4 linked regions of the Homo sapiens genome follow. The protein of the gene in region 1 interacts with the protein of each later gene in a pairwise test. Each region holds a gene or a part of one and is shown on either strand. Other genes may lie near its edges.

Region 1 (6,870 bases):
TTCTTTTTTTCTTTCTTTTTTTTTTTTTTTTTTTGAGACAGCCTCATTCTGTCGCCCAGGCTGGAGTGCAGTGGCGCGATCTCAGCTCACTGCAACCTCTGCCTCCGAATTTAAGCAATTCTCCTGCCTCAGCCTCCTGAGTAGCTAGGACTACAGGCGCCTGCGACCACACCTGGCTAATTTTTGTACTTTTAGTAGAGACAGGGTTTCACCATGTTGGCTACGCTGGTCTTGAACTCCTGACCTCGGGTGATCCACCCGCCTCGGCCTCTCAAAGTGCTGGGATTACAGGCATGAGCCACTGCGCACCTGGCCAGGACTTTCATTTTCAAGCAATCCTGAGGAAACTTTCACAAGCCTGGAGAATTTGGAGTATAAACTGTATCAATAAGATGCTTATTAATGATAGGACAGGAAAGGTGCCAAGAGTGAAATGCCTGTTAAACCAAGGGCAAGTGCAGAATGACTTTAATTTTCTGGGTTTGTAATTTTTCCTTTTGACATTACTGGTTGGTGTTATTAATGTATGTGTGGAAGGCAGGCTCCTGGGGTAGGTAAATTCTTAGGTGACAGAAAAATCGATTGAACTAGTCTCCACATAAATAGAAAGGATGATGGTATATTGTGGTATATTGCACGCACATGTGTGTGTGTTTGTGTGTGTATGCACAAGTTGCACACATGTCCATGTATGTATGTGTGTGTGTGCACATGTGTGTATTCTTCTGTTGCTCTCCTTCTGACCTATATTACATGTAGGTGACACTTTCTATTCTGTCATTGTAGTAACTTAATCTTAGTTTTCTTTTTTTTTTTTTTTTGAGATGGAGTCTCACTCTGTTGCCCAGGCTGGAGTGTAGTGGCACAATATTGGCTCATTGCAACCTTTGCCTCCTGGGTTCAAGCAATTTTCCTGCCTCAGCCTCCCAAGTAGCTGGGACTACAAGAGCCTGCCACCACAACAGGCTGATTTTTGTATCATTAGTAGAGATAGGGTTTCACCATGTTCGCCAGGCTGGTCTCGAACTCCTGACCTCAGGTGATCCATCCACCTTGGCCTCCCAAAGTGCTGGGATCAATTAAGTGGTCACAGCAACACATGTCAGCCTCTCAGGGATGTGGGAAAAATTTGAACAAAGAAACCCCTATAGTCCCTCGCTTATAGGATACAAAGTACCCTCACTACAAATGGAAGCAGAAAACATCAGGCCTTGGTTTAACCAGAAATTAGGTAGTAGGAGTACTTTTCTAACAGCAAATGTGGTTGCTTCAGTGTGCAGATGTAGTGCGGAAACATGGAAAGGCATTTTAATTTTTGTGAAGAGAAGCATTTTAATTGCATAAAGTTACCTAATATGTAAAGATTTCTTGAGTGCATAAAGTGATGCAGAGATGTTAGCAGAAGTGTTGGCCTCAGCTGGCCACAGGGATCAGAGCTGGCTCCTACCTTGCACATGTCTGTCACCCAGCTCTCATCTCCTTTGTCTATGAAGCCATGGATGATGAACCGGGTCTTTCTGTCCATTTGAAAATTTGATGCCTCAATTGTTGATGGATCAGAGAGGAGGAGAATCTGTGACAGACGCAGAAGTGCTTCATGTTTTCGCAGCCCAGCCTCACAGGCCTTTTTCCTTCCTCATCTCCGCCTGCGCCAATGCCTCTACTTTTCAAAGCTTAGCAAAAAGCCACTTCTTCCATGAAGCCCACCCTGATCTCCCTTTTCTTGCCCCATCTCTCCAGGTGAGTAATCACTGCTTCCACTAGGCCTGGATTGTGGTTTGAGGTTTTACCTTCCCTGTGGTTTTTGTTAGACAGTAAGCTGTTTGCCCCAGACCAGAATCACACAGTAGCTAGAGGTTCTGGCAAATGTGAACCATTCATTCATTCAAGCCAACATTACTAAAGACCTGCTCTGTCTAGGTCTAGCTAGGTCTGGGGGGCAGCTTGAGGGATGGGGTGGGGCATGGTGGAGGAAGAGGGCACAGAGATAAGGTATTCATGGTCTGCAGGGTGGGCATAGCCCCGTGCCAGTTACAGTGACATTTAAATGACAGAGGTCTCACTTGAAAGTTGTTTGGGTTTTCATTGGTGTACAGCAGGAAGCGGGTGCCGATCTTCTCAGGGCTCCAGGGGAGAATTTTCAGGGGCCTGATTGCTGTCCCGCCCCAGGGCTCAGTGTCAGAAAAGCACCCGAGGTCCTCATAGCAAACTTCTTTTCCTACAGAGAAAGGTTGAATCTGCTCAAGGATTTGCTCTCAAGGTGTGCTCTGGGGTGTCACTGCTGTTCGGGCCTGGTCACTCTTCTATTCAGGGACAGTCTGAAGACAATGGATGAACCTACTGCAACCCCTCCCACTCTCTTCTTGACCCCAGTGCCCACCTACTACTGGCCGGTAGTAGTATCAGTCCCATTGAATCCCACAGGGACACCACTGGAGCCTTTGTTTAGAACTACCCTCAAAACTGGAAAGTTCTAAGTCCCATTCCTAGCTCTTCTGATACATTTATTTGACCAATGTGATCATGGGCATTGATAAGTCAATATGTTAACTCAGGCAGATGTTTCATGCTTTACCTAGAAATGTCTGGCCTTGGGCACCCCGAGCATGAAGGTAGGCCACTGGGGGGATCCCCAGAAACAGGTCTCCCTTAAACTGCCCAGCCTACTCTCCCAGGCAGAGTGTCAGCCCACATCTTCTCTCTGGTACCCTGGAGCTGCTGGGAGCCCTGCCACAGTTAAAGCTTTCTCTGGCCAGGGCTGAGAGCTTAAGTTTAAGCCCTTCCTACGGGGCAGGAGTGGTGTTTCTTACCTTTGGCTGCTCCCAGCAGGAAAAGTGTGATTGTCCAGAAGATCAGCATCTACAATAAATTTAAACATAATTCAGTCTCACCGGGCATTGCCAGAGCAGTGAGCACCGACGCCCTGGACTTCAGTACTGTTTACCTCACCTGTACGTCACAGCAGGGGGAAAGGAGTTGCAAAGGTGGCTTACCCTGTCTAATGTTCCAGATGTTCCCTCCCACCGGATCGAGTGTCCAGCCCTTTCTAAAAATATATATTCCAGCCTTATCATTTGGACACTACTTCAAGAAAACAGCAGGTGATTATAGCCCATGCTGTGCGCACTTAATACTTTAATCTGCCCAAATACACAAAACAAGATTAATAATAGCTGTCAAGTCTTCCCACAAGTCTGGAAATATGACAGAATGCTTGGTTAAAGCAGGGAGTGAAGTCACCAACCTTGTACCTATGTAACTATGCATGTACTTGTGAGCTGAATGGGCCCTCACTTTTCAGTTTTCTATTTCATCACCAAATAGTTTACAAGTCTCAATAGGGACACAGCAGCAAACCCTAATGATAGAGGATAGTATTTCTCATTTAGAATAGATGAAAATACCTGCAATTAGTTGAAAGTAAAGAGAAATCTCTGATTAAGAAAACTTCTTCTCTCTCTCTCTCTCTCTCTCTCTCTCTCAATCTTCCTCTCTCTCTTTCGAAGACTAGGAATACTGGGCATCTGAGCTTTGGAGAAAAATTCAACAGCCCTCACAGTAGCTTCTGACCACAATCCTCCCATTAACTGCCTATTCCAGTTATATATTGCTATGCAATGAACCAATCCAAAAGACAACACTTTAAAACAATAGCAATGATTGCATTATGCCACTGTAATCTCAATAGTTGGGTTCAGGAGCCCCCAGAGGCCCATGTCATGTCTGTTGAGTTTCCCCAGGTCCTCTGAAGGTTGCACACCTGCAGATAATTCTTGGACCCTGTAAAGCCATCATGATATAACCAGAGACCTCTGCATCTGTGAACAGCCCAGCCAGTTCACACAGCAAGGCAGATAAGCCTTCACAAAGCAAACACCATGAGTGCCTCCCCTTGCCAAGTTAAATATGCCTCGGTGTCAAAGTTCTCAATCTTAAATAACCAAAACACAAGGGTGCAGGCCTAAGGGCCTTCCTCTTAAGAAAATGGAAAGGACTCCTGGAATCATAAAGAATAGCTGCCAACTGTTACGAAGCCTTACCAAGTACAGTCAGAATTCCAAGCACCTTACGTGTATTACCTAATAAGTTTTAAAACAATCCCATAAGCCTCTCTTTATAAATGTGGGAACTGAGGCACAGAGAGATAAGTAAATTGCCTAAAAAGTCACACGACTAACGAGTGATGAGGTAAGATTTGAATTCAGGCTGTACAGAGTTGTTGAATATTCAGTTGTGTTGAGCTAGTAATCAGCAAGCTTCACTGGATGTCAACCATGTAGAACAAGAGGGATACACAGAATGAGTCAAAAGAGAAAATGTGAAAACCCTCTTGGCCCTTGACCTGTTTCCTCCCTACTTCCAGGCATCCCCAGGATGGAGAAACAGGCTAGACTTGGTGATGGACTGGGAAGGTGGTCAGAGTTCTTCATCCCTTCCTCCTGTACACACACCCTTTGCAATGTGATCTTGCAGCTCCTTCCATCAAGAAGTGGAGTTTATTTCTCCACCTCTTGAATCTGAGCTAGACATGGTATGACTTGATTTGGTCATTAAGTGTGGTAACAGCAACATCTTTGAACAACTCAAAGCCAGCTGTCCCCCAAGTATGTAAAGGACCCAGCCAAGATTAGTGGCACTGCCTACTCAACCCACTGTAACCACAGAGGCATGAGTAAATCCAGCCAAGACCAGAAGAACCACCCAGCAAACTCAGATTTTTGAGCATGGATAAATGCTTTAATTCAGTGCTTTAAGCCACTGAATTGGTGATTGTTTGTTATGCAGCAGTAGCTAACCAATACAGGAACCCAAGCCAGGCCTGGAATTCAGAGACAGCAGCACCTGTTGCACTCACTGTTACTATTCTTTAGCACACAGCACCAGGTTCGAGCATACCCTTTCCTAAGACAATGAGGAAACTCCGTGCATCAGTCAATATACACTGTGCTCCAATGCACTGGCTCCTGTTTAAATGCTCTAGGGGATTTAATTAGACTAAGCCTCTAGCAAGGCTGAGGTTCAAGCTGCTTCTCCTTCACAGGCTGTCAGACAATTTATTCATTCCACACCAGATGGAAAGATTTCTGGGTGAGTCTTTCAAACAACAATAACAACTGGAATTTCTTTTTTTCTTTTCTTTTCTTTTTTTTTTTTTTTTTTTTTTTGAGATGGAGTCTTGCTCTGTCACCCAGGCTGGAGTGCAGTGGCGCGATCTCGGCTCACTGCAAGCTCCACCTCCTGGGTTTATGCCATTCTCCTGTCTCAGCCTCCCAGGTAGCTGGGACTACAGGTGCCCGCCACCACGCCCAGCTATTTTTTTGTATTTTTAGTAGAGACGGGGTTTCACCGTGTTAGCCAGGATGGTCTCGATCTCCTGACCTAGTGATCCGCCCGCCTCGGCCTCCTAAAGTGCTGGGATTACAGGCGTGAGCCACTGCGTCTGGCCAACAACTGGAATATTTTGATTGAACTTACATCCAGTTTCAGGGTCACAAGTAAGGATTCATAGGCATACAAATCTGTGGATCTCTTTTTGAAACCATGACTTCATTTCCACCAGACAGCTCTCAGGTCTTCAAGACGTATGACTCATTGAAGGTCACAAAAGTAAAGAATGAAGTCACCAGCCATTATCTGTTATACATACATGTGTAGATGAAGCCCAAATATCTGCTTTCCTTCAGGCAATCAGCTCTGTCCTTGTTTGCTCCTTCAATTTTAATTCTGGGGGAATGATAGAGTTGGGTTCAAGGTGGGTTTTCGGAGTCCCTTAATTTTAGAGAAATGTTTGTTTTGAGAAAGCTGGTTTTTAAATCTCTTCCAGAGCCTAGAATCAGACTGTATTACATTGAACTATGTTTCTAAATATCCCATGAACTGGCAGACTCTCCCTCTGTGTGTTGTAATGGAAGTAGGGTACAAGAACTTGCCTCATCATTAGTCAGCTATTGATTTCTTTTTCTTTTATTAGAGATACCTGTCTGTGGGAAGTGAACTCAGCTTCTGAGTTTCACCTAGAGTTCTCAAAGTCCTTGATGACCGCTGGTAGATCTCACCGAGGCCAGACAAACCCTGGTGCCAGTTGGAGTGCATTAGGTCCAAAAGTCTGCGCTCCTCTGTAGGGGTCCTTGGCATTTCCAGAACAACTCCCAGCCTTCAGAATCTGGGTGCTGTGAAGTTCTGCAAACTTGAATGACGATTAGATAGGGAAATAATCAGAACTTGCTCTCCATACAAGTATCAAAACGGTTGATTTACACCCAAAACTTGGCTGAAGCCACTTTTGGGGGCCTCTGCTTGTCCATGAGGAAGTCCTCATCATCCAGCTGCCATGGACTTCGGAGACCAGGAACTGGGTCTTTTTTTTGCTCACTTCTGTGTCTCCAATGCCTAGCGGAGTGCCTCACATATGGTAGGTGCTCAGCACATGTTTGTGGAAGACATGAATGCTTACTCAAGGACCATCCTAGTCTTGTCTCCTACAATTCTCTTCTCTGAATACTGCCCAGAAGCCATAACAAACTGTCTTCTTAATATTAAAAGAGCTAAGCTTTTAAAAACTGTGTAACTTTTCTGTACTTACCTTTAGTTGTTTCATAATGACCAAGATCCTATTTAAGAAAATGTTTTAGGTCTTTTGACATTTCTTACAAACTTCTGAAATTCTAATTTAAGTCTTTTGATCTCAGAATGACTTTGGGACATACTAGAGGGTCCCTGGAGCTTCTCAAAGGAAGAGACATATTAAACCAATTAGGCTTATTAAATACATTAAATTATATGGGAAACATTGTAAATAAGAAATTATATTTAACCTTCTTTTAGTTATACTTGTATAAATATGTTGTTTCATGTTCCACAAACTAATAA
Region 2 (5,675 bases), on another chromosome or scaffold:
ACACCTGGCTAACTTTGGTATTTTTAGTAGAGACGAGGTTTCACCATGCTGGTCAGGCTGGTCTCGAACTCCAGACCTTAAGTGATCCGCCCGTCTCAGCCTCCCAAAGTGCTGGGATTACAGGCGTGAGCCACAGTGCCTGGCCAGCAACAGCATTATAACTTGTCTTAGAGAATACATACTAGCCAGCCAGGCGCGGTGGCTCACATCTGTAATCCCAGCACTTTGGGAGGCCAAGGCGGGCGGATCACCTGAGGTCAGGAGTTCGAGACCAGCCTGACCAACATGGAGAAACCCTGTCTCTACTAAAAATACAAAATTAGCTGGGCATGATGGTGCATGCCTATAATCCCAGCTACTCGGGAAGCTGAGGCAGGAGAATAGCTTGAACCCAGAAGGCGAAGGTTACGGTGAGCCGAGATCACGCTACTGCACGCCAGCATGCCAGCCTGGGCGACAGAGCAGAACTCCATCTCAAAAAAAAAAAAAAAAAAGAGAGAGAATACATACTAGCCATTGGTTGGATGCCATTAAAGAAATATTTTATTTTGTCTATATCATTGTAGATGCTAGTACCCTTAGATTAGTAAAACAAAACTACCATATGATCTTTATTTAAAAAGCCTTGGGTTAAGCTCTGGAGAATTTTCATAGGCAAATTCTTCTGTATGAGCTGGATCAGTAAACACGCCAATAAAATCTATCTCCAGGAAGAATGGACCATCCACTTTATCAGCCAAGGTGAATCCTATAGAAGAGATCTAAATTTAAAATACAGAAATTGATTAAAATCTCATACAGTGACGTACTGAGATTATTCCAGGAGTTTAAAATCCCATCAGGTGATGATTATAACTGGGTTTTAATGCTATCAGCCCTTAGCAAATACTACTAATTCTCCCATAGCATACTGTAAGAGGAAATACAAGACTGCTTTTCTTTCCTCATTCAACTTCCTCCCCTCTCCTCATTAGGTAGTGCCACTTAAGACTAGGAAGGACGGCCGGGCGTCGTGGCTCAGGCCTGTAATCCCAACACTGGGAGGCCAAGGTGGGCAGATCACAAGGTCCAGTTAAAAACCAGCCTGCCCAATATGGTAAAACCTCGTCTCTACTAAGAATACAAAGATTAGCCAAGTGTGGTGGCAGGCACCTGTAATTCCAGCTACTCAGGAGACTGAGGCAGGAGAAATGCTTGAACCCGGGAGGTAGAGGTTGCAGTGAGCCGAGATCATGCCACTGCACTCCAGCCTGAGTGACAAAGCAAGACTCCATGTCAAAAAACAAAAAGACTAGTAAGGACGACATGAATGCCTAATGGAGTTCCTTGAAGCGTTCATAAACTCTTATTTTAAAGCTAAATTAGGAGAGAAGGGAGGGGGGAAAATAGCTAAAGTAAAATGTAGGCATGCTAAAAAATGATCCTTCTAAAATTCCTTCAGGATGGGGGTATGGTTCATAGGAGAGGTCTAAGTCAGCCTCTGGCTGGGTATAAGAGCAGTGGCCCTGAGAAGAAATATTCATCTGCCAGCCTTCTCAAATGAACTCAGTCTCCCCAGAGTTCCGATTCATTAAAAATGATACAGTTCTGAGTGAAAAATACAGGAATATGTTACCTTATCAAGCGGAAGCTCATGCTGAACATCCCGGATTCTTCCTCGATTAGAGAAGAAAAATTTGGAAAAAGGAATCTGAAAGAAGAAACCATTTACTTCATAACTGAAATGTAAGCAATTGAGGCATCTGCATGTAATTGTAACGATAAAATGAGTTTACATTTATTCTAAAATTATGTCATATATGTATTATGACAAATGGCTAGCCATTTGGATCAAAGATATAACTCAGGCCAAACGATAAAGGGTTAACTATGAAAAAAATATTTGTAACATTTATGGAAAAAAGACTAGTATCCTAAACACAGCTTTTTTTTTTTTTTCTTTCTGTGGAGAATGGGGTCTCACTTTGTTGCCTGAACCCGGGAGGTAGAGGTTGCAGTAAGCCAAGATCACACCACTGCACTTCAGCCTGGGCGATAGAGCTAGATTCTATCTCAGAAAAAAAAGAAAAAAGAATTTTAACGTTTCCCTTCCTTCCTACATTAGAAACTGAACTAAAAGAAATGTCCTATTCCTTCTACTCTTGAACTTTCAAGTGTGCCTTTTTATTCATCAACTTTATTTTCATATTTCTTCTCTATGTAATTTACTTATTATTAAGCACGATCTTTTAAAACTATATCTGGCTTTAATTGTTTGTGTTTTGTTTTGAGATAGGGTCTCACTCTGTTACCCAGGCTGGAGTGCAGTGGTGCCATCTTGGCTCACTGCAACTTCCACCTCCCAGGTTCAAGCGATTCTCCCACCTCAGCTTCCTGAGTAGCTGGGACTATAGGCGCACACCACCACACCCGGCTAATTTTTTTTTTTTTTTTTTTTTTGGTAGAGACGGTGTTTCACCATGTTAGCCAGGCTGGTCTTAAACTCCTGAGCTCAAGTAATCTGCCAACCTTGGCCTACAGGTATGAACCACCACACCCTGCCTAAATAATTATACAGAAGCTCTCCAGGATATATTCCTAAATTTTAAAAACACAAAAAACAGGTACAGAGTATGCTAATTTTATTTATATTTTGAGTTTAACAAAGGAAGAAAATGGCTGGGCCTGGTTGTGCATGCCTGTAATCCCAGCACTTTGGGAGGCCAACACAATAGGATCAACTGAGCCCAGGAGTTCAAGACCAGCCTGGGAAACACGGTGAAACCAAGACTCTAGTAAAAAAACAAAAAACTTATCCAGCCATGGTGGTGCATCCTTGTAGTCCTGGCTATTCAGGAGGCTAAGGTGGGAGGATCACCTGAGGCTGGGAGGTTGGGGCTACAGCGAGCCCATGCTGCACTCCAGCATGGACAACAGAAGAGAGACCCTGTCTCAAATAAGTAAATAAATTTTAATGAACATAAATAAAAATGAATTATACATATTAATAGTTATTCCAGTAATTTTATCTCTAGGAATATAGCCTATGAAAATAGTTAAGGATGTTTACCTCAGAGTTTGTTCCGACAGTAGAAAACTCTGAAAACAATCTAAATCTACATGTACATAATGAAGAACAAGTTAAGAAAAAAAAATTTTTTTTTTTGAGACAGGGTCTTACTCTGTCACCCAGGCTGAAGTGCATGCAGTAGGGTGATCTCAGCTCACTGCAGCCTTGACCTCCCAGGCTCAAGCAATCCTCCCACCTCAGCCTCCTGAGTAGGTGGGACTAAAGGCACATGCCACCACACTGGGCTAATTTTTGTATTTTTGTAGAGACAGGGTTTTGCCATGTTGCTCAGGCTTGTCTTAGACTCCTAGCTTCAAATGATTCACTGCCTTAGCCTCCCAAAGTGCTAGGATTACAGATGTGAGCCACTGGACCCAGCCAAAATTGTTGTCTACTTATATAATATCATGCAGACATTAAAAATGATGTAGAAATATATTTGAAGAGAAAGTTGTAAACAATAGTTCAGTGAAAATACTGTATATATGTTATAAAACACCACTGGAAGGGAAAAGTGTGACTAGAAAAGTGTAGAAGATACATATTAAAAATAGTATTTTTGTGCCAGGCGCGGTGGCTCACGCCTGTAATCCCAGCACTTTGGGAGGCCAAGGCAGGCGGATCACGAGGTCAGGAGATCAAGACCATTCTGGCTAACACGGCGAAACCCCGTCTCTACTAAAAATACAAAAAATTAGCCAGGTGTAGTGGCAGGTGCCTGTAGTCCCAGCTACTCAGGAGGCTGAGGCAGGAGAATGGCGTGAACCCGGGAGGCGGAGCTTGCAGTGAGCAGAGATCGTGCCACTGCACTCCAGCATGGGCAACAGAGCCAGACTCTGTCTCAAAAAAAAAAAAAATAGTATTTTATCTGCTGGGTATGGTGGCTCATGCCTGTAATCCCAGCACTTTGGGAGGCCGAGGTGGGCGGATCATGAGGCCAGGAGTTCAAGACCATCCTGGCTAACACGGTGAAACCCTGTCTCTACTAAAAATACAAAAAATTAGCTGGGCGTGGTGGTGGGCACCTGCAGTCCCAGCTACTCGGGAGGCTGAGGCAGAATGGTGTGAACCTGGAAGGCAGAGCTTGCAGTGAGCCGAGATCCCGCCACTGCAGTCCAGCCTGGGCGACAGTGCGAGACTCTGTCTTACAAAAATAAAAATAAAATAAAATAAAAATAGTATTTTATCACTGGATAGTGGTAGTACAAGATTTTTTTCTGTACTTCCCAAATTGTTTTTATAATGAAGTAGTTATTTTGTATAATAATTCATTATATATATATTACTTAAATACAAGTATATATAATTTGTGTTATATATCTGTATTACTACATATATATGTATGTATTGAGTGCTTATTTTGTGCTAGGCACTAGGACAAAATTCTAGGTACAGGGGAAACTGGTAGGAACAATATAAGCAAGATCTCTGCTCTCACAGAATTTACAGAATTTAGGGCCAGGTGTGGTGGCTCAAACGCCTATAATCCCAATACCTTGGGAGGCGAGTCGGGTGGATCACTTGATGTCAGGAGTTCGAAACCAGCCTGGCCAACTTGGTGAATGAAACCCCATCTCTCCTAAAAATACAAAAATTAGCCGGGCGTTGTGGTACACGCCTGTAGTCCCAGCAGGAGGATCTCTTGAACCTGGAAGGCAAAGGTTGCCGTAAGCTGGAATCACACCACTGCACTCCAGCCTGGGCAGTAAGAGTGAGACTCCATCTTAAAAAAAAAAAAAAAAAGAATTTATATAATTTATGTTCCAGGGAAGGCAGTAGAGTGACAATAAACAGATGAATGAATGAACAAAGTAATTTTAGTTAGTGATAAGTTCTATGAAGAAAGTTATAGGATGGTGGTGTTGAAATAACTGGATTAGAGGGTCCAACTTTAGTTACAGGAATCAGGAAAGGCCTCTCTGAGGCAACTTTTGAGCCGAGAGGTGAATGACAGGAAAGAGAAAGCAGGTGAAGACATGGGGGCAGAGCATTACAGCAGAGCAACACTAAGTGCAAAGCTCTGAGATGGAAATGAGGTTGTTAAATCTGACAGAAAAGGGGCTGGTGTGGAGGAAGGAGGTAGGAGGAGAGATGGAAGATGAAGACAGGAGGAGAGATGGAAGATGAAGACAGGGGTCCGATATTGTAGGCCCATAGGCCATGTGCAGGAGTTTGGACTTTATTCTTTTTTTTTTTTTTTTTTTTTCTTGAGATGGAGTCTTACTCTGTCACCCAGGGTGGAGTACAGTGGCGCGATCTTGGCTCACTGCAACTTCCACTTCTCAGGTTCAAGCGATTCTCCTGCCTCAGCCTCCTGAGGAGCTGGGACTACAGGCGTGTGCCACCACCTGCTGCTAATTTTTTGTATTTTTAGTAGACACAAGATTTCACCATGTAGACCAGGCTGGTCTCAAACTCCTGACCTCAAGTGATCTGCCCATCTCAGCCTCCCAAAGTGCTGGGATTAAAAGCATGAGCCACCTAGCCCAGCCTGGACTTTATTCGAATTGTAATGGGAAACCACTGAAGGGTCCTGATATGGTTTGGCTGTCTCCCCACCCAAAATCTCATCTTGAATTGTAGTAATCCCCATGTGTCAAGGGAGGGACCAGGTGAAGTTAACTGA
Region 3 (7,031 bases), on another chromosome or scaffold:
AGAGAGAATATGTATTATTGAGTCAATTTATCATAATCCAGTTTAGAAATTACATTTGCCAGTTAAAAGAAGGCCCTTCAAAATAGGCTTTTGCTTATTTGTTTCATTATGGCTCATTCTTCTTTAATTGGAAAAGTGCCAGTCCTCCTGAGGGTCAGCTCTGTGCACAAATTTGCCTGATAAAATAGAAACAGTGACGAATTGGACAACAAGTTGGCATCAAAACAAGAGGAAGAAGGCACTGCCGATGAGCAGAACCTGTTATGATCTTTGAGGAGAAAGTATTTCCCATGCTCCAAGAGCAGGGTTAGTGGGCTGAGGCTGTTCACATCCTTGGCTGGTTCTTCCTTTGCCACATCTCCCACATTCACCATTCCCTCTCCTGTCACCACCACTATCCTCATCTGCCAGGACTGCTGACCCCTAATTCCTCCGCCTAACACTAGTCTCTCCTCATGTCCTTCAGTCTGTCTCCCACAACCAAGGATCTTCCCTAAACAATGCCATTCTCCTGTGCAAAATCATTCATGCTCCCTGCTGCCTTCAAACCTCACCTGCACTCCTAGCAGCGAATGTAATCCCACTCACCTGGCTAACTTTGCCTTGCTTCCTCTCTATAGAGGGCAGTGTGGCAGAAGGGGAATGACATTAAATGTGGAGGCACGAGGATTTTTTTTTTTTTTTTTTTTTTTTTTTTGAGACAGGGTCTGACTCTGTCACCCAGGCTGGAGTCCAGTAGCACGATCACAGCTCACTGCAGCCTCGACCTCCCAGGCTCAGGTGTTCCTCCCCACTACCCTCCCACCCCGTCACCCCAGCAGCTGGGATTACAGGCAAGCATCACTATGTCCAGCTAATTTTTGTAGAGACGGGATATCACCATGCTGCCCAGGTTGGTCTTGAACTCCTGGGCTCAAGCGATCCTCCTGCCTCAACCTCCCAAAGTGCTGGGATAATAGGCATGAGCCACTGTGCTTAGCCTGGCACAAGATCTTGATTTCAGTGTCTTCACCTAGAAAATGGGAGGGTTTTGTTTGTTTTTTGTTTTCTGAGACAGGATCTCGCTCTATTGCCCAGGCTGGAATTCAGTGGCAACATCGCAGCTTGCCACAGCCTCAACCTCTCAGGTTCAAGTGATCCTCCTACTTCAGCATCATGAGTAGCTGGGACTACAGGCATGCACCACTGAAAATGGAAGTATTAACAATGCCTGCCACTGCCTACTCAAGATGTTGCAAAGATCCAACGAGATCTCTAACCTACTTGAAAGGGCTTCAGAAACTTTGGAGCACCATACAGTATCACACAAGCCCTCAATTACTGCCACGTCCCTGAATCCCTTGGTGTCAATTCACCATTAAACAACTTCTCCCTTGCTCTGCAGTTTGAATACGGTCTGTCTTTTAGGCACTGATTCTCATACTCTGGTGTGTAACAGAAATGCCTGTAGCACTTAAAGATACAAATGCCCAGCCCTGGGACTTCTGCCTCAGCAAGTTATCCTTTGCGGGAAGGATCGTTGGACAGAAAGAGGCAGAACACAGAAGAGAAAGAAGCAGCAGCACCTTTTTTTTTCTTTTCTTTTTTTCTCTTTTTGAGACAAGGCCTCACTCTGTTGCCCAGGCTGAAGTGCGGTGGCATGATTATGGCTCACTATAGCCTCGACATCCTGGACTCAAGCAATCCTCCCACCTTAGCCTCCTGAGTACGTAGAACTACGGGCATGCACTACCAGGCCTGGCTAATTTTTTAATTTTTGTTTTGTTTGTTTTGTAGAGACAGGGTCTCACTATATTGCCAAGGCTGGTCTTGAACTCCTGGCTCAAGTGATCCTTCCACTTTGGCCTCCCAAAGTGCTGGGATTACAGATGCGAGCCATCATGCCCAGTGGAGAAGCAGCACTCTTGGCACATAAGGACAACACAAGTCAACAAGACTGGGGACCAAATTAACAAAGGGAAGCCTTTCTGTGATACAGTCCCCCAAGCCACTGCCAGACCTACCTCCTTATGGACATGAGTGATGGCTGTGGAGAGTTCTAAGCCATCAAGCAAATTATTGCCATCATAATCATGCATTTTGAAGTAATGGAGCTGCAATTCTTGTGGCGACATCTCCGCCTCTGGTTTGTTGATGACACCTTCTAGATGCTCCATGATATGCCTAAAAATCAACAGTCAGGTTCAGGCCAATTGACAGATACTGGGATCATGCTGAAATCTTAAGGACTCTGAAAAGTTCAAGATCTTAAACTTCCTCCAGCTCAGAAAAACAAACACCAGCAGTGGCAGACCACACTCAAGGATTACACAGAGATAGACAAGGCCTTGAGAGGAGCAGGAAAAGTCAAATAGACCATCTGTTATGCTGGCAGGATTAGGGTATTCTTTCCTCTTTATTATTAGAATTTTGTTATAACATTTTCAGGCCATCAATTTAAAAATATGTCCTTTAAAACTTTTTTTTTTTTTTGAGACAGGGTCTCACTCTGCCACCCAGGCTGGAGTGCAGGAGCGTGATCTTGGCTCATTGTAGCCTCAACTTCCCAAGCTCAGTTGATTCTCCCACTTCAGCCCCCCAAGTAGCTGGGACCATAGGCATGTACTGCCACATCCAGCTAATTTTTTGCAATTTTTTAGTAGAGACAGGTTTTCCCTATATTGCCTAGGCTGGTCTCGAATTCCTGGGCTCAAGTAATCCACCTGCCTCAGCCTCCCAAAGCACTGGGATTACAGGTGTGAGCCACTGCACCCAGCCTTAAAAACAAAGGATAACCGAGTATAATGCGTGAGGCTAACTGGCCCAAGACAAAAGCTGCAACAAATGATTCAATGTTTGAATGTGTTGATTTAAAAAAGGTCTTGTTATAGTCAAGAAACCTTAGCTATTTTCTGGATTCTGCTACTATGACTGTGTATGTGTACCTGTGTGTCTATTTGTATGTGTGTGTGTCTGTCTGTGGTGAAAAAAAGGAGAGACCGGATTCAGACAAGTAATGTGCCCCATTTGGGCCTAAAGATCTTCCACCTGTGATACAATGATGAAAAAAGAATACCTGACTTATAGGTGGCAATAAGGAATAAGAATCATCCTTGAAGAATGTCAAGGAGCCATAGAAACAGGAAGAAGGAAAGGAGGACTGAGCATGCCCTTGCCGCTGGCTCAGCTGCAGATGATGGGGAGGCCACTGGACCACAGCCCGGGCTGAATACGTACTCTTGGTCGTGCACTGTGTTCTTATCCAGGCCCATGCTGCCGGGTTGGGAGAAGCTGGCTGCAGGCTCCTCAGCCCTGGCGCCTGGGGCACAAAAGGCCCAGAGCAGGCCACACAGGAAGGGGGTTCTGAGCAGGGATCTCATGGTCATCAATATCTGTGAGATGGGAAACACAGAAGAGGAAGGCAGAGCATCAGAGCAAAGGTTTCGTTCAGGGCTTGACATGGTATGATCCTGGGAAACCTGATGAAGCAGTAAGGTTAGGAAGAGAGCTTGTCAAACACGGCCCAATGCCAGCTCTGCTTTGAGACTGTGGGATGACCCTGGGCACTCCAAGTCACTCAAATGGCAGGGGAAGGCTCACGAGGTTTCCTGAAGTGCCTGCAGAGTGCCAAGCAACACGTGAAAGCTTGAAGGGACTGGAAGATTATTCTTGCCTCCCAGAAGTTATGGTCCCCTGAAAGAAATATTTTCTATCAAGAGCACCAGGAAAGGCAGCCAGCAAGTTATATCAGATTATCAGAGAAAGCGAAAACCCTCTAGGAGTTCAGGGGAAGAAATCTCCTCCGAGTGGAGGAAAATCAGAGAAGGCTGATAGAGCTGGTGACACTTCAGCTGGGCCTGGACAGATATGCAGGGACTGAAGGACCACAGGAATGGTGGGAGCAGAGTGGCAGGTGCCCACAAGCGGGAAAGAAACTACAAGTAGTTCAGCTGGGCTGCAGCCTAGAGGGTAGGAAGCAGACAGGACAGAGGTGGCTCCAAGGCCTAGACAGGCTGTACTGGACAGGGCTTTGCACACTAGGCCAGGGCTTGACATCTCCTGCAGAGAAAGACAGGAGAGTCACTTACAATTCATGAATGGGAGGTGAGATCAGAGCTTGGTTTCAGAATGACTCATCTGGCAGCACAGTGGGGAAGGCATGAAGTGGCAAAAGCAAGACTAGAGGCAGGAGCATGGTAGCCAAGGGAGTGGTAAGGCGGGTCAGATCAAGGTCTGCGGCAGCGGACAAGGTTCTGTACCTCCTGGGTGGTAACAGTGGCAAGTAACTACAGTGAGCGGGCACTGGAAAGAAAAGTTACAGAGAAATCAGGATGCCATCAGGAACTCCCAGGGTTTGGCCACACTTGGAATTGTGGTCAATAAGATGACAGTCAGCTACAGAGCAAGCTCTTGGAGGGCAGGGAGAACTTTAACCCCACCAGTATTACCCGCCAAGGGTCAGGCAGGCCTTTAATAATTGTTGATTCAATGGAAAGTCTTGGTCTGTCCTAGGGCTGACAGACTGACCTCAAAAAGGAAGGTGAAGGACAGCCAGGTGACCTACATACAAAAACAAAAGACCTGACCGAACACTCACTTCCCAACAGGCAAAACAGATTCTGCTAGATAACAAGGCCAGGGATTTCTAACAGGTCAATTGTAGTCCACAGCCCCAAACCAGCAGTGGTAAAGACAAACCATAAGGCACTGGTCATCCCCTTTACATGCTACACACAGGGCTCAGCTCAGAAGCTGTAGCTGTCTTTGTGCCTGGGGCTGAGAGGTAGAGGTGTTATAGTCCCTCTTACCCATCCTAAAAGGCTCTCAGGGCAGAACCCTGAAAGTGTGAGTATGCCACCCTACAACACTTAGAAAAATTTCCCAAATCCGTTTTTCCCATTACCAGTATTGCTTCCCATGGCCCCCTCCTTAAAGGGGACAATAGTCACTGGGATGTCTAACTTCCAGGATAGGCCAGGCATGGTGGTTCATACCTGTAATCCCAGCACTTTGGGAGGCTGAGGCAGGAGGATCACTTGAGGCCAGGAGTTTGAGATCAGCCTAGACAACACAGTCAGACCCCCATCTCTACAAAAAATAAAAAATTAGCTGAGCGTAGCAGTGCACCCCTATAGTCCCAGCCACTCAGGAGGCTGAGATAGGAAGATTGCTTGAGCCCAGGAGTTCAAGGCTGAAGTACACTCCAGCCTGGGTAACAGAGTGAGACCCTGTCCTCCACCACCAAAAAAAGGAAGAAACTTCCAGGGTGCTAAAAAGCACCTAGAATCTAGTCTACTTCTAAACAGTGACATCAAAATGCAATCTGTCTCAGACCTTTTATTTTTTAATTTTTATTTTTTTGAGACAGAGTCTTGTTCTTTCGCCAGGCTGGAGTGCAGTGGCGCAATCTTGGCTCACTGCAACCTCCGCTTCCCAGGTTCAAGCAATTCTCCTGCCTCAGCCTCCCGAGTAGCTGGGATTACAGGTGCATGTCACCACGTCCAGCTAATTTTTGTGTTTTTAGTAGAGACAGGGTTTCACCATCTTGGCCAGGCTGATCTCGAACTCCAGACCTCAGGTGATCCACCCGCCTCGGCCTCCCAAAGTGCTGGGGTTACAGGCATGAGCCACCGTGCCCGGCCACCTCAGACCTTTTATATCTGTAGTTTAAAAAAAAAAAAAAGCAATATGTCATACTTAATAGGAAAGAATGCTCAATATATATTGAATGAAAAAGAACAGGCTGCAAAAAAGCAATAAAGAATAATACACTTTTGTAAAATAAAAATGTGTATTTCCTACACAAACTAATAACAAAGATTATCTTGAGACATGAGATTAGAATTGTGATTTTCAGCCGGCATGGTGGCTCGTGCCTGTAATCCCAGCACTTTGGGAGGCCGAGGCGGGCAGATCACGAGGTCAGGAGATCGAGACCACCCTGGCTAACACGGTGAAATCCCGTTTCTACTAAAAATACAAAAATAAAAATTAGCCAGGCGTGGTGGCGGGCACCTGTAGTCCCAGCTACTTGGGAGGCTGCGGCAGGAGAATGGCATGAACCCGGAGGTGGAGCCTGCAGTGAGCCGAGATCTGCTACCATTTTTTATGAATATGTATTCAATGTAATCTATCCCATAATTTTGTCCCAATACTATATGGATCGGATACAAAAGGAGTTTCCGGTTAATTCTTATCTCCACAAAATAATTCAGAAACAGTCAGAAACTACACTTCCAATTTTACCAAATAAAAGTGCCCAGACCTTGGCCAGGGACAGTGGCTCACATCTATGATCCCAACACTTCGGGAGGCCGAGGCAAGTGGATCACTTGAGGTCAGGAGTTTGAGACCAGCCTGGCCAATGTGGCAAAATGCGTCTCTACTAAAAATACAAAAAAAAATTTGCTGGGCATGGTGGCGTGCACCTGTAATCCCAGCTATTTGGGAGGCTGAGGCACAAGAATTGCTTGAACCCGGGAGGCAGAGATTGCAGTGAGCCAAGATCACACCACTGCACTCCAGCCTGGGCAAGAGAGTGAGACTGTCTCAAAAAAATTTTTTAAACGTGTCCAGACCCTGACAAGGCCACTGCCACTGTACCTGGTACCACAAAACAAGGTTTCAGGTTACTCCTAGCAGTGACTGCCTAGGCCATAGCAGAACAACTTGTTCTGACCACACATCTTAGAGTTCTGGGACAGGAAGGATCAGAGAAGGGAATCAAGCTCCTCCCAAGCCTTTCAGACTCATTTACATCAAATGTCTCTTTCTCCAGTGAGGTCTTTTCAATTCCAAGTCTGGTGTAGGTATTCGTCCTGCAGGCTCCCAAGTGCTTCCCTTCAGAAGGCTCCCGTCCACAGCTGATGACAGCTGCAAATTAATTCTTTTTTTTCTTTTGTTTTCTTGTGTGTGAATGAATTCTTGAAAAACTGCCTGATTACTTGTCAGTGCCCCTTGCTGGATGGGCTTTAAGAGGACTTGGACTGAATCCACATTCCCAGTATCAGGCACAGTGCCTGGAACAGAAGCTGCTGGTTCTTAGCCTGTGT
Region 4 (7,113 bases), on another chromosome or scaffold:
CAACTACTATGTACCTGGCACTCTGAATACACACACACACACAAATATATATTTCCTCCATAAATATAGTCTTGTGTCAGCCAGGCGCCGTGGCTCACGCCTGTAATCCCAGCACTTTGGGAGGCCGAGACAAGAGGATCACCTGACGGCAGGAGTTTGAGAACAGCCTGGCCAACATGGCGAAACCCCATCTCTACTAAAAATACAAAAATTAGCCAGGCACGGTGGTGGGTACGGGTACCTGTATTCCCAGCTACTCAGGAGGCTGAGGCAGGAGAATCACTTGAACCCAGGAGGTGGAGGTTGCAGCGAGCCGAGATCGCACCATTGCACTCCAGCCTGGGCGACAAGAGTGAAACTCCACCCCAAACTATTATCTATATATGTGTGTGTGTGTTTGAGTGTGTGTACATATATATACATATATATACAGTCTTGTGAGAAATAGGTAAATTTAACCCCATTTTGCCAATGATGAGATAAGGCTTAGATAGGTTAAATAATTTGAACAAAGTTAAAGGTGAATTAAAGATAAGAGTTGGCAAAAGAAAGTAAAAGTAGCTTTATCTTTCATAGGTTTCCTGTTCATTGGTGTTTTTATGACAACATTGACTAATAAGAGATTAAGGTAATAAATGTTCTCTTTCCCAGAACACAAGTGTTTGAGAACACTGAAGATTTATGCTGCTATTCAAAACAGAAGATCTAGTTGTGTTGCTAAATGCCATGGGGGAAATGTGCCTAAACTGCAGACTGATGTAAAACAGATGAGAATTCAAATCTGAGTTCTGCCATACTGGTTTGTAGCATTTGGCAAGCTACTTAACCAATCTGAATCACAATTTTCTCAGCTGTAAAATTCAGAACAATAAAAGGCCATTTACAAGGTTATTATGAGCCCCAAGAAGAAAATAAGCATGAAAGCATCTATCCCATGCCTATGGGGCACTTAATAAATATTAGTTTCCTTTTTCTTTCCAAAAACTTTTAGGTCCTGGAATTTATCTCTGATTTATGAACTTCATGCAAAGAATATCTATCATTTCCCAGTTAAATAATCAACTTTACTGAATTTGAATTAGCAATGTATATTAATGGCTTTTACCATTAAGGTAAAACACAAAAGCAGTGTATATTAGTGGCTTTGTATATGAGTGGCTTTTACCATTAAGGTAAAACACAAAATTCATCAAGTTATTTTTTTTTCAAATCTCTCATAAGTGGGTAAACAAAAACACTGCCTTGGGAAAGTTAGTTCCTATTCTGCATGGTATGAGCCCATTAAAATTTATAGGTGAAATATGTTCCATACGCTAAACATTCAGCACAAGCGGAAAACTGGAAACACATACCTGCAGCTGACTCTCACTGATGTCAACTCCCAGCTCAGTCATTACCTCTGATTCATTCATTCATGGTAAAGTGAATCTCAACTAAATGACATACACATGAAACAAATACTTAAATTTATAAGCAGTTCTTCCCCAGGGCAGGAAGTGAAACGGCATGTTCACAAGTAAGCAAAGAGTCTCGAGAGACCATTGTTTTTAGCTCTTTTTCCAGTGCTATCCCTCTACTCTTTCCTCAAATGCTCTTTTTTTCCCCCATCAAAACATGTAATCCAGAAAAGCATGTGACTAATTCATCCTCATTAAAGTGTAAATAAGGGACAAGGCTTAATGTCTCCCAGAGGTATTTATCTACACCATAATTGGGAATAAGGTCACTGGCTTAAAGGGAAGGAATGCGAATCTAGTGATGATGTTAACGATCTGCAAAGCAACAAGAAAGAACAATTTTAGTCCTGAGAGCCTTCGCATTGCTCCTGAAGTCAAATCGACAAGCCATCTCAGCACTTAAAGCTGGATATGGCCACCAGACACCCCTAAAGCTCCTTTATCCAGTCCTCTAAAGTGCTTCTTTCCTAAAGTAGGTGCTCAGGCATCACTGACTGGAGCTACGGGAGTCTCATTCTGACTATGCCACTGACACAACCACGACGGCTGCTACCAAACCACAATCGTTAGCTTCTTGGGATTCTTGGTTTAAGTCCTAGGAGTTGCTAAAGAGGCCAGTGTAGGTAAGAATGAGCTCAAGCTTAGGAAGGGCCACTGGGTGAGGTGCAGACCTGCCTCCACTGCTCAGAACGCATCCCACTGCTCAGAACAGTAGCCAATAAAGAAAATGATCATCAGCAAAGTAACTTTTGAGCACTGAAAGGAAAGCCCACCCATGGCTGAACAAGTCTCTGTGATATTTGTAACATTTCCCACTAGAATCTCTACCAAAAGATTAGAAGAGTGTTTAACACAAGAGTTTCAGTTATTCCCCCTAGGCAGGATAAGAGACAGACTGCTGAGCTTCCCTGGGGTTACTTACCTGAGATCCATATCTCCATCAACCCAGAAGGTGAAAATGTTAGAGATGGTGCCCCCCGGGCAGCAGCCCATGATGAGAACAGCAATAGCTTGGACTGGCTTCAGAGAAAAGCTAATGGCCAGGAGATAAGCTGTAAAAGGCATGAGCCCAAACTGGCAGAGCAGTCCCACAGCAATGCCCCAGGGTCTCCTGATGTGCGACCACAGCTTCCGGATCTCCACGGAACATCCCAAAGAGAACATGAGCAGCCCCATCATCACAGTGGACACCACTGTGAAAACGAGCTCCAGGTTTCCATGCACCTCCAGTCCCACTGGCAGCTCCTCCTCTGAACTGTTGGCAGGGCAGGCTGAGCTGCTGGAACAATTGGCTCTCATCTCCTCATCTCCTTAAGGCAGCATTACAAATGAACATCGGCAACAATGGCTGGGCAGGTCTATCCTGCCACATTTTGTAATAGTGCAACGAAGTCACACATGGAGAATCATTCCAATAACTGTTGGCCAGCAAGGTGATTCATCCTAATCTGATCAATTTTTTCACAAGTGGCATTATAAAAGTAATTATCACAGGCATGAAACATATAATAAACTGTGGTAAGTAAGGCTTTCCACTTCTGTTCTTACTCACCACTGAATATGTATGTGAGATGAGACAAACAAACTTGTTGTCAAGTGGAGTGACCGGGCTATGTCGTCAGCATCACATTGTGTCCCTGGAAAGTAGGGTGGATGCCAAGAAATAATTTCTCCAAATTCAGTTGGGATTTCAAAGAGCCAGGATGCACAGACAGAAAAGCTAACTCCGGAAAAAACAACAAAGCCAAAGCCACACCTTGTAGCATTAGCAAAGCGTGTCTGCTGGAAATAGAGCAAAAAGAAAAAAAACGCCGGTGGAGGAAATGTCAGGAGGGACTAAGAATAATTTCAAGGAGCTTCAGAATTTGTCTCAGTTTTTCTTCTAGTTCTATTAGAATTTGTGTCTAAAGTCAATAATTAAACACCTGTGAGAATAATATGGTATTAGGCACCTAATTATGTCTCATGAAACATGTGAAAACTAATTCCTTCACCCAAAATAATTCAAGGGAGCTCTCACTTGCTTTTGGAGATAAGAGTCTACTTTGAGATACATACCCCTGGCCTCCTAGGGACATCTGGGAATCCTGCAAGGGGATGTGGTAAAGAGCTTGGTCTGAAATGGAGATGGGGTCTGAGGACAGCCTCTGACCACAGTGCCCAGGGCCCCTCTGTGCATTCTAAGCAGGCACTGCTGGCAAAACCCAAGGACTGTATGGTTCTGTGAAACTAAACCTCTGAAAAAGCAGGTGCCACACCCCTTCTCACAGCAGAAAGTTTATTTGTGGGGCACAGGCTAGTAACAAGGCACACTTCATAAACGCCTCTACCTGTCTCAAGAGGGATACTAGCTATGCATTGTTTATTCATGGATGAGCAAATTCTTCTCCATGACAGAATGCTCAGGACATGCTGACTGTATAAAAATACAAGTTAGATTCAAATGTGAAGTAAATTCTAACTATTTGAAGAAAGAATAAACTGCCTTTGGCAAACAAACCCTGAAGGCAGCTCTGGCCATCCAGCCTCCCTGGAGGTTGCGTATAAGGGGTCAGTCAGCACAGGGCGTATTTACGCAGAGCCCTGCAGAGAATGGACACTGAGGAACGGGAAAGGTCTCTGGAAGGCAAGGTGTTCCCAGCTTGAATGATGCAGAGGTGTGGTCAGGCTGAGGAGGAAGGGAGGAGGGAGACAGCTAACATTTTCTGAGCACTTCTCAGGGGTGACAGAGGTGGTGATATGGTTTGGCTGTGTTTCCCCCGCACCCAAATCTCATCTTGAATTATAGCTCTTATAATTCCCATGTGTCATGGGAAGAACCTGGTGGAAGGTCATTGAATCATGGGGGCGGGTTTCTCCCGTGCTGTTCTCATGATAGTGAATAAGTCTCTCAAGTTCTGATGGTTTGATAAAGGGGAGTTCCCCTACACACGCTCTTGCCTTTTCTGCCACCATGTAAAACGTGTCTTGCTTCCCCTTCCCCCTCTGCCATGATTGTGAGGCCTCCCCAGCCATGTGGAACTGTGAGTCAATTAAACCTTTTTCCTTTATAAATTACCCAGTCTTGGGTATGTCTTTATTAGCAGCGTAAAAACAGACCAATACAGGTGGCTAGGTGCTTTACACATATGTGGCTATGTCTGGTGAAGCAGAACTTTATTTACTTATTTAGCAAGAGAAGGGGTCAGGGGTGTCTGCCTAGATAATGTCCAAAAGCCCCTTAGTCAACCTTCTTTTTTTTTTTTTTTTTTTTTTTGAGATGGAGTCTCCTACTGTCGCCCAGGCTGGAGTGCAGTGGAGTGGCGCGATCTCGGCTGACTGCAAGCTCTGCCTCCCGGGTTCATGCCATTCTCCTGCCTCAGCCTTCTGAGTAGCTGGGACTACAGGCGACCACCACCATGCCTGGCTAATTTTTTGTATTTTTAGTAGAGACGGGGTTTCAGTGTTAGCCAGGATGGTCTCGATCTCCTGACCTCGTGATCTGCCCGCCTCAGCCTCCCAAAGTGTCAACCTTCTTTGTTCCCAGGAAGAGTCACTTGAATCGCCCTTTTTAGTTATACAAATTTAAGTTTTGTATAAGCACCTCCATTCCTGATAAGGATGGTATAAGCACCCCCATTTCTGATGAGAATGGTGTGACGGGAACTTTTGTGATTGCTGGGTACTCAGTGCTGATAGAGGGGAGGGGGCTAAATATGCATAGCAGCCTTAAGGAGCCTCCTGGGAGAGGGAGAAAGGTGACCTTGGCCACTTCTCTTTTAAAATGTAGTGTTGGCCGGGCGCAGTGTCTCATGCCTGTAATCCCAGCACTTTGGGAGGCTGAGGCAGGTGGATCACGAGGTCAGGAGATCGAGACCATCCTGGCTAACACGGTGAAACCCATTCTCTACTAAAAATACAAAAAAATTAGCCAGGTGTGGTGGCGGGCACCTGTAATTCCAGCTACTCAGGAGGCTGAGGTGGCAGAATGGCATGAACCAGGGAGGTGGAGCTTGCAGTGAGCGGAGATTATGCCACCAAACTTCAGCCTGGCAGCCTGCACGACAGAGCGAGACTCCGTCTCAAAAAAAAAAAAAAAAAAAAAAAGTAGTGTTATCAGAATTTCTCAAAAGAATTAGGATGTTTCCGACTGAGGTCAGCTGGTCCTAACACACACCAGGAAAGACAGGGGTTTCTTGCCTGATGACAGGTTCCTCTGTGTCCAGTCACCCTGGACAGATGCCACAGGACACAATGACTAAGTATATGGATATGACCTGAAGAGAAGTCATCTTGAGAGCCCAGGCTTGGACACCGCCATGTTGTGTGCCAGGACTGGACCGGAAGGGACAGGGTGGCAATGGATAAAGGCCCACTGGACTGGGTGGGGCCAATGCATCAAAAGGTCCCAACAGAAACAACCGCAGTGATCCCAGGGCCTACCAGCGGGCTGGTCAGGCTTTTCCAAGTTTCTCCCCAGTGGAGATGGGAAGGAGATTTTCCTGGGAAGAGTAAGCACTTAGGGTTCTCGGTCAATTTGTAAAGAAGATTTCAAATACAGGATCGCAGACTTCCTGCCCTTATTGGTAAGTAGAGATTCAAATGATTAATTAGAAAATTTTAAAAAGCATGACCAACTTTACATCCCAAGCCAGTGAGGCAGATTATGAGATCCCACTTAATCCTCACATTTATTCTAGGAAGTAACAAAGGCCCATTGGGGCCATATTATTTGTCGAAGATTATTAAGCAGGTAAATTATAACATTGGGATTTAAATCTCAATCTAATTCTCCACCTGTCCTCGTTTCCTTCCCTGGAGCACACTGAAGTGGAAGCAATGAAAAGCAGTCAAGAGCAAGACCATGCGGAAAAGACTGGCAACCACTTAGGCATAGCTCAGGGGTAAAACACCACTATTTGGCTTAAGGATGGAGAAATAAACTAATCCCTAATCTCTAACATTATCTTCTATTCTCACACACTCAAAAGGCATCTACATATGTTCAATATGTATGCACCTTCATTTTGAGATCCAGTTCTACAAATCACAGGAAGTATTTCATGTACTTCCAGCCTCTGTAAGTAGAATTTGGGGTGAAAGATACTCCTCAGGAAAACCAACAGAAAAGGCTGGGAATGTAAAGTCTGAGGGGAAAGTGCCAAAAGAAAAGGTAACCAGACTTGGCTGTGGAACTGTTTCCCACGCTCTGAAAGGCAGCACAGGGTAAAACTTCTAGAAGCTTGAAAGACAGAAAAATCCTATAGGTTCAAAAAGAGTTTACGTAAATTCATGAGAGATAAATCCAAAACAGATATAAAGGAAATTGGCAGTAATGGAAAAAGTAGACTGTTTACTCAGACATGACACAAGGTAAAAAGCCAAATTCAGTATTTTTTTAACTCAACAATAAAAACACTATCACTTCCCAGAAAAAAAGACAAAATACTTGAAAAAAAGTGATCAACATCTTCCATGGTTGTAGTGTCCCTTCCAAAACTCATGTTGACATTTAATTGTCATTTTAACAATGTTGAGAAGTGGGCCCTTTAAGAGGTAATTAGGTCATGAGGGCTCTGGATAGATGAATGCTGTTATAGTGGGGAAGAATGGGTTCGTTATAGTGGGAATGCCATGTGATGCCTTCTGACATGTTACGATGCAGCAAGAAGGCCCT

The links.
Region 2: the proteins of PNLIPRP1 (region 1) and NDUFAF1 interact in binary tests that used the Homo sapiens proteins (3 or more experiments, as listed by UniProt).
Region 3: the proteins of PNLIPRP1 (region 1) and MCFD2 interact in binary tests that used the Homo sapiens proteins (3 or more experiments, as listed by UniProt).
Region 4: the proteins of PNLIPRP1 (region 1) and SLC10A6 interact in binary tests that used the Homo sapiens proteins (3 or more experiments, as listed by UniProt).

What each region holds. Positions count from the first base shown.
Region 1 is NC_000010.11:116,587,119-116,593,988, reverse strand, and holds the start of PNLIPRP1 (inactive pancreatic lipase-related protein 1 precursor), read right to left. Parts: upstream 3,031-6,870; 5' UTR 2,994-3,030; intron 2,977-2,993; exon of another isoform or gene 2,950-2,976; intron 2,860-2,949; coding exon 2,811-2,859; intron 2,219-2,810; coding exon 2,064-2,218; intron 1,574-2,063; coding exon 1,448-1,573; intron 1-1,447. UniProt on the Homo sapiens protein: May function as inhibitor of dietary triglyceride digestion. Lacks detectable lipase activity towards triglycerides, diglycerides, phosphatidylcholine, galactolipids or cholesterol esters (in vitro).
Region 2 is NC_000015.10:41,386,833-41,392,507, forward strand, and holds the end of NDUFAF1 (complex I intermediate-associated protein 30, mitochondrial precursor), read right to left. Parts: intron 1,691-5,675; coding exon 1,616-1,690; intron 762-1,615; coding exon 612-761; 3' UTR 521-611; downstream 1-520. UniProt on the Homo sapiens protein: As part of the MCIA complex, involved in the assembly of the mitochondrial complex I.
Region 3 is NC_000002.12:46,905,807-46,912,837, forward strand, and holds part of MCFD2 (multiple coagulation factor deficiency protein 2 isoform A precursor), read right to left. Parts: intron 5,068-7,031; exon of another isoform or gene 4,974-5,067; intron 3,372-4,973; 5' UTR 3,366-3,371; coding exon 3,217-3,365; intron 2,873-3,216; exon of another isoform or gene 2,164-2,872; coding exon 2,004-2,163; exon of another isoform or gene 1,078-2,003; intron 1-1,077. UniProt on the Homo sapiens protein: The MCFD2-LMAN1 complex forms a specific cargo receptor for the ER-to-Golgi transport of selected proteins. Plays a role in the secretion of coagulation factors.
Region 4 is NC_000004.12:86,846,360-86,853,472, forward strand, and holds the start of SLC10A6 (sodium-dependent organic anion transporter), read right to left. Parts: upstream 3,026-7,113; 5' UTR 2,757-3,025; coding exon 2,380-2,756; intron 1-2,379. UniProt on the Homo sapiens protein: Transports sulfoconjugated steroid hormones from the extracellular compartment into the cytosol in a sodium-dependent manner without hydrolysis.